Linked DNA regions of Homo sapiens. The protein of the gene in region 1 interacts with the protein of each later gene in a biochemical or structural test. Each region holds a gene or a part of one and is shown on either strand. Other genes may lie near its edges.

Evidence for each region. The genes of interacting proteins can lie anywhere in the genome.
Region 2: the proteins of RAB5C (region 1) and RBSN form a complex in vitro, tested with the Homo sapiens proteins (2 studies listed by BioGRID and IntAct, with this or other methods).

What each region holds. Positions count from the first base shown.
Region 1 is NC_000017.11:42,144,977-42,152,019, forward strand, and holds part of RAB5C (ras-related protein Rab-5C), read right to left. Parts: intron 1-7,043. UniProt on the Homo sapiens protein: The small GTPases Rab are key regulators of intracellular membrane trafficking, from the formation of transport vesicles to their fusion with membranes.
Region 2 is NC_000003.12:15,069,530-15,075,148, reverse strand, and holds the end of RBSN (rabenosyn-5), read left to right. Parts: intron 1-218; coding exon 219-1,367; 3' UTR 1,368-5,076; downstream 5,077-5,619. UniProt on the Homo sapiens protein: Rab4/Rab5 effector protein acting in early endocytic membrane fusion and membrane trafficking of recycling endosomes. Required for endosome fusion either homotypically or with clathrin coated vesicles.

The sequences.
Region 1 (7,043 bases):
AAAAGAAACCCCATCTCTACTAAAAAAAATACAAAAAAATTAGCCGGGTGTGGTGGCGCGCGCCTATAGGCCTGTAGTCCCAGCTACTCGGGAGACTGAGGCAGGAGAAAGGCGTGAACCCGGGAGGCGGAGCTTGCAGTGAGCCGAGATTGCGCCACTGCACTCCAGCCTGGGCGATGGAGTGAGACTCCATCTCAAAAAAAACAGAAAAAGAAAAAATAATTTAGTAACTCATGTAGCTACTCCGCCCTCAACAAGGGGAACATGAACATAAGTCCCTGTTCCTTAGGTGTGGGCTACACAGTGACTTTCTTCCAAAGGGTGCATGCAGCATGGAAAGGGGAAGGGGAGAACAACTTTACAGAGAAGCCTCACACACATCACCTCAGCCAAGTGATCATGGTTGACATCAGTCATGGAAAGGCTTGTGGATTGTATGTACCCTTGACATGATGTGATGAAAATAGCACTTTACCTCTCTGGTCCTCCTTCCCAAAACTTGGCACAGTCTACTTATGAAAAAAACACTGGACACAGCCAGGCGTGTTAGCTCACGCATGTAATCCCACCACTTTGGGAAGCTGAGGTGAGCAGATCGCTTGAGCTCAGGAGTTTGAGACCAGCCTGGACATCATGGTGAAACCTTGTCTCTACAAAAATTAGCCAGGCGTGGTGGTGCATTTCTGTAGTCCCAGCTACTTGGGAGGCTGAGGAGAATGGCTTGAGCCGAGATTGCACCACTGCACTCCAGCCTGGCTGACAGAGCAAGACTCTGTTAAAAAGAGAAAAATACTGGACAAATCCCAGTTGAGAAGAGATTCTCTTTATTTTTTATTATTTTTTTTGAGACGGAGTCTCATTCTGTCTCCAGCCCAGGCTGGAGCACAGTGACACGATGTTGGCTCACTGCAACCTCTGCCTCCTGGTTCAAGCGATTCTTGTGCCTCAGCCTCCTGAGTAGCTGAGATTACAGGTGCGTACCACCATGCCTGGCTAATTTTTGTATTTTTAATAGAGATGAGGCTTCACCATGTTAGCCAGGCTGGTCTCGAACTCCTGACTTCAAGTGATCCACCCACCTCGGCCTCCCAAAGTGCTGGGATTACAGGCGTGAGTCACCGCGCCTGGCCGAGATCCTCTTTAGATGCTTGCCCAGCACTCCTCAAAACTGTCAAGGTCATCAAAAACAATAAAAGTCTGAGAAACTGGCACAGCAAGAGGAGCCTAAAGAGACAATGAATATAGGTAACATGGGATCCTGGAACAGCAAAAGGACATCAGGTAAAAATCTAAGGAAATCTGAATAAAGGATGGACTTTAATGTAAAATACGTACTAACATAAGATGTTAATAACAGGGAAAACTATGTGTGAGGGATTGTGAGAAAACTCTGTACTATCTGCGTAACTTTTCTAAAAGTATTCTGAAAGAATAAGTTTATTAAGCCTCGGCAACATAGGGAGACCCCGTCTCTACAAAAAAATCAAAAATTGCCCAGGCACAGTGGCTCACACCTGTAATCCCAGCACTTTCAGAGGCCAAGGCAGGCAGACCACAAAGTCAAGAGATCAAGACCATCCTGGCCAACATGGCGAAACCCCGTCTCTACTAAAAATATAAAAATTAGCTGGGCATGGTGGCGTACGCCTGTAGTCCCAGCTACTCGGGAGGCTGAGGCAGGAGAATCACTTGAACCCAGGAGACGGAGGTTGCAGTGAGCCAAGATGGCATCACTGCACTCCAGCCTGGGAAACAGAGCAAGACTCCATTTCAAAAGAAAAAAAAAAAAGGAGGCCAAGGTAGGCGGATCACGAGGTCAGGAGATGGAGACCATCCTGGTTAACATGGTGAAACTCTGCCTCTACTAAAAGTACAAAAAATTAGCCAAGCGTGGTGGCAGGAGCCTGTAGTCCCAGCTACTCGAGAGGCTGAGGCAGGAGAATGGCATGAACCCGGGAGCTTGCAGTGAGCCGAGATCGTACCACTGCACTCCAGCCTGGGCGACAAGGCAAGACTTCGTCAAGAAAGAAAGAAAGAAAGACAGAAAGAAAGACAGAAAGACAGAAAGAAAGACAGAAAAAGAAAGAAAGAAAGAAAAAGAAAGAAAGAAAGAAAGAAAGAAGGAAAGACAGAAAGAAAGAAAGAAACAGAAAGAAAGAAAGAAAGAAAGAGAGAGAGAGAGAGAGAGAGAGAGAAAGAAAGAAAGACCAGCCTCAAGGTGAGCAGAGGATATCCAAGTACTGCAGGCACAGGACCAGGGAATGTTAAAGACCCCATCTGTGGAATACACATGTGAGGGCTGCTCATACCACTGGTCTGAACAGCTGCTGCCACCACTTTTTTAAGCCACCTTCACTCAGGAACGAGCCTTGTGCAGACATACAGAACAGTATCCACAGGCAGAGTCAAATTTGCTTCCACTGATCCTTGCTAAGTACTGGTCTGGGGTCGGTGCTGCCTCACCACACACAACTGCAGAAGCACGGTCGTTCTGTCCTGCCATCAGATACACACACGGCAGAAGCCAGTCAGCCGGACTGTGGCTAGTCAGGGCCGCGCCCTCATTGTCCCATTAAACCCTTCACCAGAAATGGAGATTTGGAGAGTCTTAACTTCTGGAAACTGAGTTTGTGACTTGCTTCCCATCATCCGTACTGTAACATTGATCCTATTGACCTGTTTGCTCTCCCATTTGTCTGTGAGCAACTTTCTGGGGGATGGACCAAAGATATGGCTCAAGCTGTGGGATCAGATGGATTTAAGTTTGAATCATAGGTTCACGACATCCAAAGTGTGTGAAGAAAGGAAGGGAAGTGTGTGTTAAAAGAAGTGGGCGAGGGCCAGGCATGGTGGCTTACACCTGTAATCCCAGCACTTTGGGAGGCCGAGGCGGGTGGATCACCTGAGGTTGGGAGTTCGAGACCAGCCTGACCAACATGGAGAAACCCCATCTCTAATAAAAATACAAAAAATTAGCCGGCCGTGGTGGCACATGCCTGTAATCCCTGCTACTTGGGAAGCTGAGGCAGGAGAATCTCTTTAACTCGGGAGGCGGAGGTTGTGGTGAGCTGAGATTGTGCCATTGCACTCTAGCCTGGGCAACAAGAGCAAAACTCTGTCTCAAAAACAAACAAAAAAAAAGAAGTGGGCAAGGCTGGGCACAGTGGCTCATGCCTGTAGTCCCAGCACTGGGAGGCTGAGGCAGGCAGATCATGAGGTCAGGAGTTTGAGATCAGCCTGGCCAACATGGTGAAATCCGTCTCTACTAAAAATACAAAACTAGATGGGCGTGGTGGTACACACCTGTAATCCCAGGTACTAGGGAGGCTGAAGCAGGAGAATCACTTGAACCCAGGAGGCGGAGGTTACAGTGAGCAAGATCGTACCATTGCACTCCAGCCTGGGTGAGAGGTCAAGACTCCATCTCAAAAAAAAAAAAAAAAAAAAAAAGAAGTGGGCAGGTGTTTGGTGTTTGCTTTAAGGGCAGGTTTGAATGTCTGCCCTCTCCTTTAACAACTTCAGTAGGGAGCCTACTATGCTGAGTGCCATGCCAGGTCCTAAACACACAAAGATCAAACAGGACCCGATCTGTGCCCCTAAAGGGCTCACCCACCAGAGAATGAGGCAAATAAGGAACAATGAGATAGCAGTTGAGAAGACAGCCCATGTAGGAGACAAGCCCTCAGCCCATTTGGGGCAAGGGAAGGCTTCACAGAGGAAGTGGCATTCAAACTGAGCTTTGAGAGAAAAGTAGGGAGATACAGTTTCCAGGCACGTGAGGTGCAGAAGAGCCTTCTAGGCAAAGTGAACAGTAGGCATTTAGCCCAGAGATGGGTCAAGGAGAGGCTGTATTGAATAGCGATAAGAGCACACCCCATCTCTGCCATTACTACATAGTCCCCCACTCTAACATGGGGATTAAACACAGAACCTACCTCCTGGGGTTGTCGGAGGATTAAAGGAGTCAACACATAGGGCTCACAAGAGTGCCTGGCACATGGCAAAAATAGAAGTTTAGCTTTTATTTGTATTACTGTTCTTATACATAGAGGATGGGGCTATTTAATTGGAAAAGTAATCTCTTACAATACCAAGCTATTAATGCAGAGGATGCCAAAAATATTCCGATTCTCCTCTGCCAAGGTTTTTGCAAGCATGATTACCTGGATTTTGGCACATCCTAGTTTATAAATTCTACCTAAAGCAGTGCTTCTCAAACAGCCCCAACATATGTACCCTTCACTCAAGTCAGGGGAGAGGAAACTCCCAGAAATCTGGGAGTTGAACCCAAAGCAGCTGGCTACAAGCAAAATACTGTCTTTGGCCAGGTGCAGCGGCTCATGCCTGTAATCCCAGCACTTCGGGAGGCCAAAGTAGGAGGATCACTTGAGCCCAGGAGTTCTGAGACCAGCCTGGGCAACATGGCAAAACCCTGTCTCTACTAAAAATACAAAAACTAGCCGGGCATGGTGGTACATGCCTACAGTCCCAGCTACTCAGGAGGCTGAGGTGGGAGGATCACTTGGGTCCACAAGATCAAGGCGGAAGTAAGCCATGATCGTCCCACTGCACTCCAGCCTGGGTGAGAGAGGCCCTGTCTCAAAAATAAATAAATTAATTAATTAATTAAAGTTTCCTGTGTTAGCTTCAATTCATGCAAACTTTGCATTCTAATCTATAATAGTTACAGGACTGTTTTAATATTAAAACGCTTACAACTAAGTAAAACTGAAGTGGCACAGCGTTCTCTTCTGTAAAATGGGAATACAACCCACATCAATTCTGTTCAATGTCTACAAAATGAGACAATTTGTGAAACCATCAAGCAATGTACAAGGCATCCCAGCAGACATTTTGTTTTTGTTTTAGACATGGGGTCTCATTATGTTGCCCAGGCTGGTTTTTTTTTTTTTTTTTTTTGAGATAGACTCTTGGTCTGTTGCCCAGGCTGGAGTGCAGTGGTGCAATCTCGGCTCACTGCAACGTCCACCTCCCAGGTTGAACTGCCTCCCAGGTTCCTGCCTAAGCCTCCCAAGTAGCTGGGATTACAGGCATGTGCCACCACGCCTGACTAATTTTGGTATTTTTAGTAGAGATGGGGTTTCACCATGTTGGCCAGGCTGGTCTCGAACTCCTGACTTCAGGTGATCTCCCAGCCTCAGCCTTCCAAAGTGCTAGGATTATAGGCGTGATCCACCACACCTGGCCCCCAAGCTGGTCTTGAACTCCTGGGATCAAGCGATCCTCCCAAAGTGCTAGGATTATAGGCATGAGCCACTGTGCCCAGCCCCAGCATACATTTGGTACACATGTTGAATCAGAATCAGTGTTGAGGCTGGGCACAATTACCTGAGGTCAGGAGATCGAGACCAGCCTGGCCAACATAGAGGAACCCTGTCTCTACTAAAAGTACAAAAATTAGCTGGGCATGGTGGCACACGCCTATAATCCCAGCTACTCAGGAGGCTGAGGCAGGAGAATAGCTTGAGCCCGGGAGACAGAGGTTGCAGTGAGCCAAGATCACGCCATTGCACTCCAGCCTGGGAGACAAGAGTGAAACTCCATCTCAAAAAAAAAAAAAAAAAAAAAAAAAAAAATCAGCCAGACACGGTGGCTCATGCTTGTAATCCCAGCACTCTGGGAGGCCGATGAGGCGGGCAGATCACCTCACCTGAGGTCAGGAGTTTGAGACCAGCCTGGCCAACATGGTCAAACCCCATCTCTACAAAAATACCAAAAAAAAAAATTAGCCGGGCATGATGGCAGGTGCCTGTAATCCCAGCTACTCAGGAGGCTGAGGCAGGAGAATCGCTTGAACACAGGAGGCGGAGGTTGCAGTGAGCCTGGGCAACAGAATGAGAATGAGACTGCCTCAAAAAAAAAAAGAACCTTCAAACCCCTACCTACCCATCAGAGGCAACTGCTATTTTGTGGGCATCCAGTCTGCCAGCACTGGACTAGCTCCTTTCTTTGTTTCTAATTCTGCAAGGTATTTAGCATCCCCATTTTACCAGAAGAAACACAGGCTCAGTGAGGTCAAGTAACAAGCCCAGGGTCACACAACTGGTAAGTGGGGGAATCAGGATGAGAACTCAGGTCCAACTGCCTCTGAAGTTCTAGTGCCTTCCACCCGACCACACTGCCTGTTTACTGGGCAAGGGTTAGAAGTAGAAGGTCTGGCCAGGCGCAGTGGCTCACGCCTGTAATCCCAGCACTTTGGGAGGCCAGGGTGGGCGGATCACGAGGTCAGGAGATCGAGACCATCCTGGCTAACACGGCGGAACCCCATCTCTACTAAAAATACAAAACAATTAGCCGGACGTGGTGGTGGGCACCTGTAGTCCCAACTACTCTGGAGGCTGAGGTAGGAGAATGGCATGAACCCGGGAGGCGGAGCTTGCAGTGAGCCAAGATCGCACCACTGCACTCCAGCCTAGGCGACAGAGCGAGACTCCGACTCAAAAAAAAAAAAAGAAGTAGAAGGTCTAAGAAGTACTTGCTTGGTGGGGCTGAATTTAAATGTATGATCTTGCTCTGTTTCCATGTAAATTCTAGTGACAGGAGCTCCTGGTGGCAAGCCACATTCTTCCCACTTGCAAGCAGCAGGCAGCACCACAGGAGAAACAGAGGACTAACCAGAGGCCCGCTCTGTTGCTTCCCCCTTAACCCTGCCCAGTGGGACCCCTGAGTTTACTCACTTTAACTTTCATTTTCTAGCCATTAGGACTTTCAGGTTCCCAGAAAAATTAATGACATGTAGATGTCAGCAAACTCTCAGGCCCTGAAGAGTACTGACTTGGGACTCCTAACTGTTTTGGTCCTCAGAGGCAGAGGTGAAAGGGGTCAAGAGAGAAGACAGGAGGTCGGGTAGACGCTGGGGAAGACAAAAAAACAGAGGAGCGCTAGTGATGAGGAGGGCTAAAGAGTTAAGAGTCTGCCCTTGTGCCGTGGCGCACTCAGTCTGCATGTTCATTCATTTAACGAACAAACCAGGCCGAAGAAGGGCCCACTGTTAGATCAGGTCACATCTGACCCCAAATCCA
Region 2 (5,619 bases), on another chromosome or scaffold:
CTTATTCATTATATTTTATTTTTGAAAATCAGGGTCTCCCTTCCGCCCACATATACACAAAAACATGACTTGATTTTAGCAGTTGGATATCTTTGTCCTGAGGTGAGAAATTGGAGTGTCACTGGCACAGGGATAGAGGGACAACAGAGGGTGGGTGACAGTGTGGGCTGCTGCCAGCATAGTGACTGTTTCTTCTCTCTGCTTTGCTCTCTCCCCAGGCTGCCCTGGAGTCCCAGCGAAGGCTTGAGGAAAGGCAGAGTGGCCTGGCTTCTCGAGCGGCCAACGGGGAGGTGGCATCTCTCCGCAGGGGCCCTGCCCCCTTGAGAAAGGCTGAGGGCTGGCTCCCACTGTCAGGAGGTCAGGGGCAGAGTGAGGACTCAGACCCGCTCCTCCAGCAGATCCACAACATCACATCATTCATCAGGCAGGCCAAGGCCGCGGGCCGCATGGATGAAGTGCGCACTCTGCAGGAGAACCTGCGGCAGCTGCAGGACGAGTATGACCAGCAGCAGACAGAGAAGGCCATCGAGCTGTCCCGGAGGCAGGCTGAGGAGGAGGACCTGCAGCGGGAACAGCTGCAGATGTTGCGTGAACGGGAGTTGGAACGAGAAAGGGAGCAGTTTCGGGTGGCATCCCTGCACACACGGACTCGGTCCCTGGACTTCAGAGAAATCGGCCCTTTTCAGCTGGAGCCCAGCAGAGAGCCTCGCACCCACCTTGCTTATGCTTTGGATCTAGGCTCTTCCCCAGTTCCAAGCAGCACAGCTCCCAAGACCCCTTCACTTAGCTCAACTCAACCCACCAGAGTGTGGTCTGGGCCCCCAGCCGTTGGCCAGGAGCGCTTACCCCAGAGCAGCATGCCACAGCAACATGAGGGGCCCTCCTTAAACCCCTTTGATGAGGAAGACCTCTCCAGCCCCATGGAAGAGGCCACTACTGGTCCTCCTGCTGCAGGGGTTTCCTTAGACCCTTCAGCCCGCATCCTGAAAGAGTACAATCCTTTCGAGGAAGAGGACGAGGAGGAGGAAGCAGTGGCAGGGAATCCATTCATTCAGCCAGACAGCCCAGCTCCTAACCCCTTCAGTGAGGAAGACGAACATCCCCAGCAGAGGCTCTCAAGCCCTCTGGTTCCTGGTAACCCCTTTGAGGAACCCACCTGTATCAACCCCTTTGAGATGGACAGTGACAGTGGGCCAGAGGCTGAGGAGCCCATAGAGGAAGAGCTCCTCCTGCAGCAGATCGATAACATCAAGGCATACATCTTTGATGCCAAGCAGTGCGGCCGCCTGGATGAGGTAGAGGTGCTGACAGAGAATCTGCGGGAGCTGAAGCACACCCTGGCCAAGCAGAAGGGGGGCACTGACTGACCAGCAGTGGAGAGGGCACCTTTGGGCCCAGGGGTCTGGCAGGAGCCAGTGGAGCAGGACAGAGGGCAGGCAGGATGGATGGGGAAGGTGGCAGGGTGAGAACTCAGATGCACACAGGTGAGGGGCAGGAATCTGCTGTTTTGTGTTGCGCACTTTGAGGTATTTCCACTACAGTTGAATAATAAAATAGAAACTAGAACAGGGAGAATCAGCATTCAGTTGCTGCTTTTCCTGTTTATTATTACTATCTTTTGTAATCGGAGGTTTACCCCTTTTGAAGGGACTTTACATTTTTACTACCGAGATATAACTAAATGCAGCTCTGTTGGGCCCAGGGCAGAAATGGCTGCTGTGTACCTCTTGGGTCCATTTGCTACTGCCTAGTCTTGGTTCCTTATGCAGTATTATAGGGCAGCCTTTTTAGAGCCCTTCCTTTAGCCAAGACAGAGAAGATAGATTCCACTGAGCTCTATTCTGCTCTGACAGAAGTCCATCCCTAGTAGGCTGTGAGTTCCATTTCACCTGGGGCCGCCTCTCCCCTGCTCTGCACTTCCTGTCTGTACAATAGAAGGGGGAGGTGCTGCTATGAAGGGGAGAGTTTAGACCCAGGAGAGCCCAGCACCTCTTTTTAAGGTGGGGTGATGGGAATATTTCACCAGGGTCTATTTTCTCAGTTTAAGTTCTTTTTTGTCTCTTTCAGGAAGTTAAGCTCCCAGTGCAGGGTATCAATGTGAATCTGGTCCTGAGCTTTTTAGAAAATAAGAGTGGTGGCCGGGCGCGCTGGCTCACGCCTGTAATCGCAACACTTTGGGAGGCCGAGGCAGGCAGATCACAAGGTCAGGAGATCGAGACCACCCTGGCTAACACAGTGAAATCCCGTCTCTACTAAAAATACAAAAAATTAGCCAGGCGTGGTGGTGGGTGCCTGTAGTCCCAGCTACTTTGGAGGCTGAGGCAGGAGAATGCTGTGAACCCGGGAGGCAGAGCTTGCAGTGAGCCGAGATCGCACCACTGCACTCCAGCCTGGGCAGTGAGAGTGAGACTCCGTCTCAAAAAAAAATAAGAGTGGTTAACTTTTTGGTTGATATTAGTATTATTTGTGAGAAGAGTTTCCCCACCCTTCTTCTGATAGAACAATTGTCTGTCACTGGAGAAATCTCCCTCCAGAGCTTTGGCAAAGTTACTCTGATCTGGGTCTGTTTAAAAGGCCGGGTCTCTAATTTAGGAATCGGTGATTTGGAAGCTTTTGCAGAACATCACCAGAAGAAGGGAAGCTTCCCAGAGTCAGAAGCTAAATTAAAATAATTTCCAAGGCTATTTGATCAGCCTTCTTCCTTTTTGGTTCATTGTGTCCTGACTTGGGGCACTGATGAGATTTTTTATTTTTTTTGAGACAGAGTTTCACTTTGTTGCCCAGGCTGGAGTGTAGTGGCATGATCTCAGCTCACTGCAACCTCCACCTCCCTGGTTCAAGTGATATTTGTGCCTCAGCCCCCTGAATAGCTAGGATTACAGGCGTGGGCCACCACGCCTGGTTAATCTCTGTATTTTTAGTAGAGGTAGAGTTTCACCATTTTGGCCAGGCTGGTTTCGAACTCCTGGCCTCAAGTGATCTGCCACCTTGGCCTCCCAAAGTGCTGGGAATACAGGCGTGAGCCACTGTGCCCGCCCTGATGAGATATTTTATTACCAATGTTAGTATTGAGAAACTGAAATGTTTGAAGAAGCACAACCCAGGATCGTGCTGGTAGCACCACAGTACTTAAACTGTTGGTCAATTAAGGCCAGAAAGGGAAATTGTTAATTTAGCTCTGGTGCTTTGGTTTACAGGAACATAACTCTTAACTGACATCTGACATCATGATAGCCATATGTGCTCAGCTCTGGGTAGAGTTTCTGCAGTTACTCATCTGAACTAATGAACAATAACTGACCACTAGTCACTTTATGCCGTGTAACTAGCTCTAGGCCATACTTTCACTGGTTACTGGTGTGAAAGCTGAAATTCATTTTGTTACATTCTGGTGAAGACCCCTCTTGATAATGGGAATGTTTTAACTCTCTTGATGAAAAAATAATCTGTATTTGTGTTGATGTTCACATTTCTGTAGCACATTTCTTATCCTTTTGGTTGAATGAAAAGATCTTGTATAGGGGTGTGGAGATGGGGAGTGGGTAGAAGTGTGTGAAGGACGCTTTGCATTTGGGATCTGTTCACAAACAGCCATATGAGTGTGTTAATGAATGTCAGCCAGTTACCAACCCTGCTGGTTGTTATGGGTTGTTTTGAGAAGTTGGCAACCAGGCATCTAAGATGTTGCCTGGTACAGGCCTCTTTTCTTCCCTGAGGCCCATGACATTTCTCTGTTACTCTAGAGGGTTTCTCAGATGGCCAGTAGGCTCCTCCCTGCTTAGGGTCTCATTTCTCTGAAAAGAGGATGAACTGAAAAGCAGGTAGTTCCAGAAGCTAATTGCTGCTTTCCATCATAATTATTTTTCTTGTGAGAACATTTCTCTTTTAATTAGCTAGTGATTTTGATTAAGACTAATTCACTAAACATACCCTTCCCTCAAATCACCTCAGGTAGCAATCTGTAAGTAACTAAAAGCATTGAAAAACACACAAGAAACATTTTTAAAAACTATTTTTAAAGGCCTGGCCGGGTGCAGTGGCTCACTCCTGTAATCCCAGCACTTTGGGAGGCCGAGACGGGTGGATCACCTGAGGTCAGGAATTTGAGACTAGCATGGCCAACATGGTGAAACCCCGTGTCTACTAAAAATACAAAAATTAGCTGGGCGTGGTGGCAGACGCCTGTAATCCCAGCTACTCAGGGAGGCTGAGGCACGAGAATCGCTTGAACCTGGGAGGCGGAGGTTGCAGTGAGCCAAGATTGCGCCACTGCACTCCAACCTGGGTGACAAGAGCAAGACTCCGTCTCACAAAAAACAAACAAAACTGACTGATTGAATATACTAAACCAAACTAAAATCATATTCTTTTGATTAAGTTTATCCATGGCTGTATTCTTCTATGAATTCTTCCATTTAATTCTTCCACGATTATCTTCTCCTGTAAATACATCACAGGAGTTAGAATTCTCTACCCATCAGCTGTACCATGTCGCAGAATTCATGCAGGCACAAAGTTGGAGTTACAGAGATGGGTTGACAGCAGGCAAACTTGGCCTATGTATTATAACCACAACTTCAAGTTCTTACCTCATGTGAATATTCACCCTTTCTTTAGTCTTCCAAGGCAAACAGCCCCGTCTCATCACCAGATGAGCAAGGTCTTGATATGGCATAGCAGATCTCCCTAGACACAGATCATGAGAAAAGATGGAAGAGACTTAGGGATTCAGGCATCAGATGAAGTTGGCTTTTCCCTTTTATGCCTTGTTTGTATTTACCCTGTCTAATACACTAAGGATACTTACTCATTGTACTTGCAGCTCAATATGTCTTTGCTGTTCAGATACTAAAATGTACCTCTGAGTCATTGTGAGCTGTGTGGTAGGTTGGACATTGGCATAGTTGGTGATGGGACTCAAAATGAAAAGGTGGTCTCTTTACCAGGTCACAGACTGTAGCAGATTGTGCTTGTTATCTGACAATGACTGTCACTTTGAGGGTCGTTGATTTGCATGCACTACTCTGGGGCCTTGTATTGGAGCCTTTTTTAAAAAAAATAAAATCTGAGATAGAGGTTGGGGGTGTGTGTGTCTGTGTGCACATGTGTTACAAGTGAGAATCATCAGATGACATCCCTTCTCCTTTCTTGATGACAACCATCTGAGTATCAGAATAGTTCCAGCACCTGTGTTGTTTGTCTGGTTAAGGCCTCTGGAAAAAATGAAGGTCACTGGGTTCTGAACAGGGGATAGATACGGGTTCCAGTTCTGCCCTTATTCCCAGTTATTCCTGCAGTGCTGGTTAAATGAACAGTTTTACAGAAGTATAGTGCAGATCCCTTAATGATCCTATCATCCCAGTTTCACACTGGAAGAAACTGAGGCTCAGAGATTGAGGAACCTTGTGACTGCCATCTGTGCCAGTCACCACCTCTGCATGACCACATTTCCCTCCATTAGCACTACCAGCATGCCTGTGAGGTAGTTACTCAGCTGTTCATCTGACCCCAGACGTAGAAAAGTTAAGAGAGATTAGCCTGGCTTAGGCCACACAGCCAGTCAGTGGTGGAATGAGGGTTTAAATCCAGATCTGCCTGACTTAATTTGCCCTCAGTAAT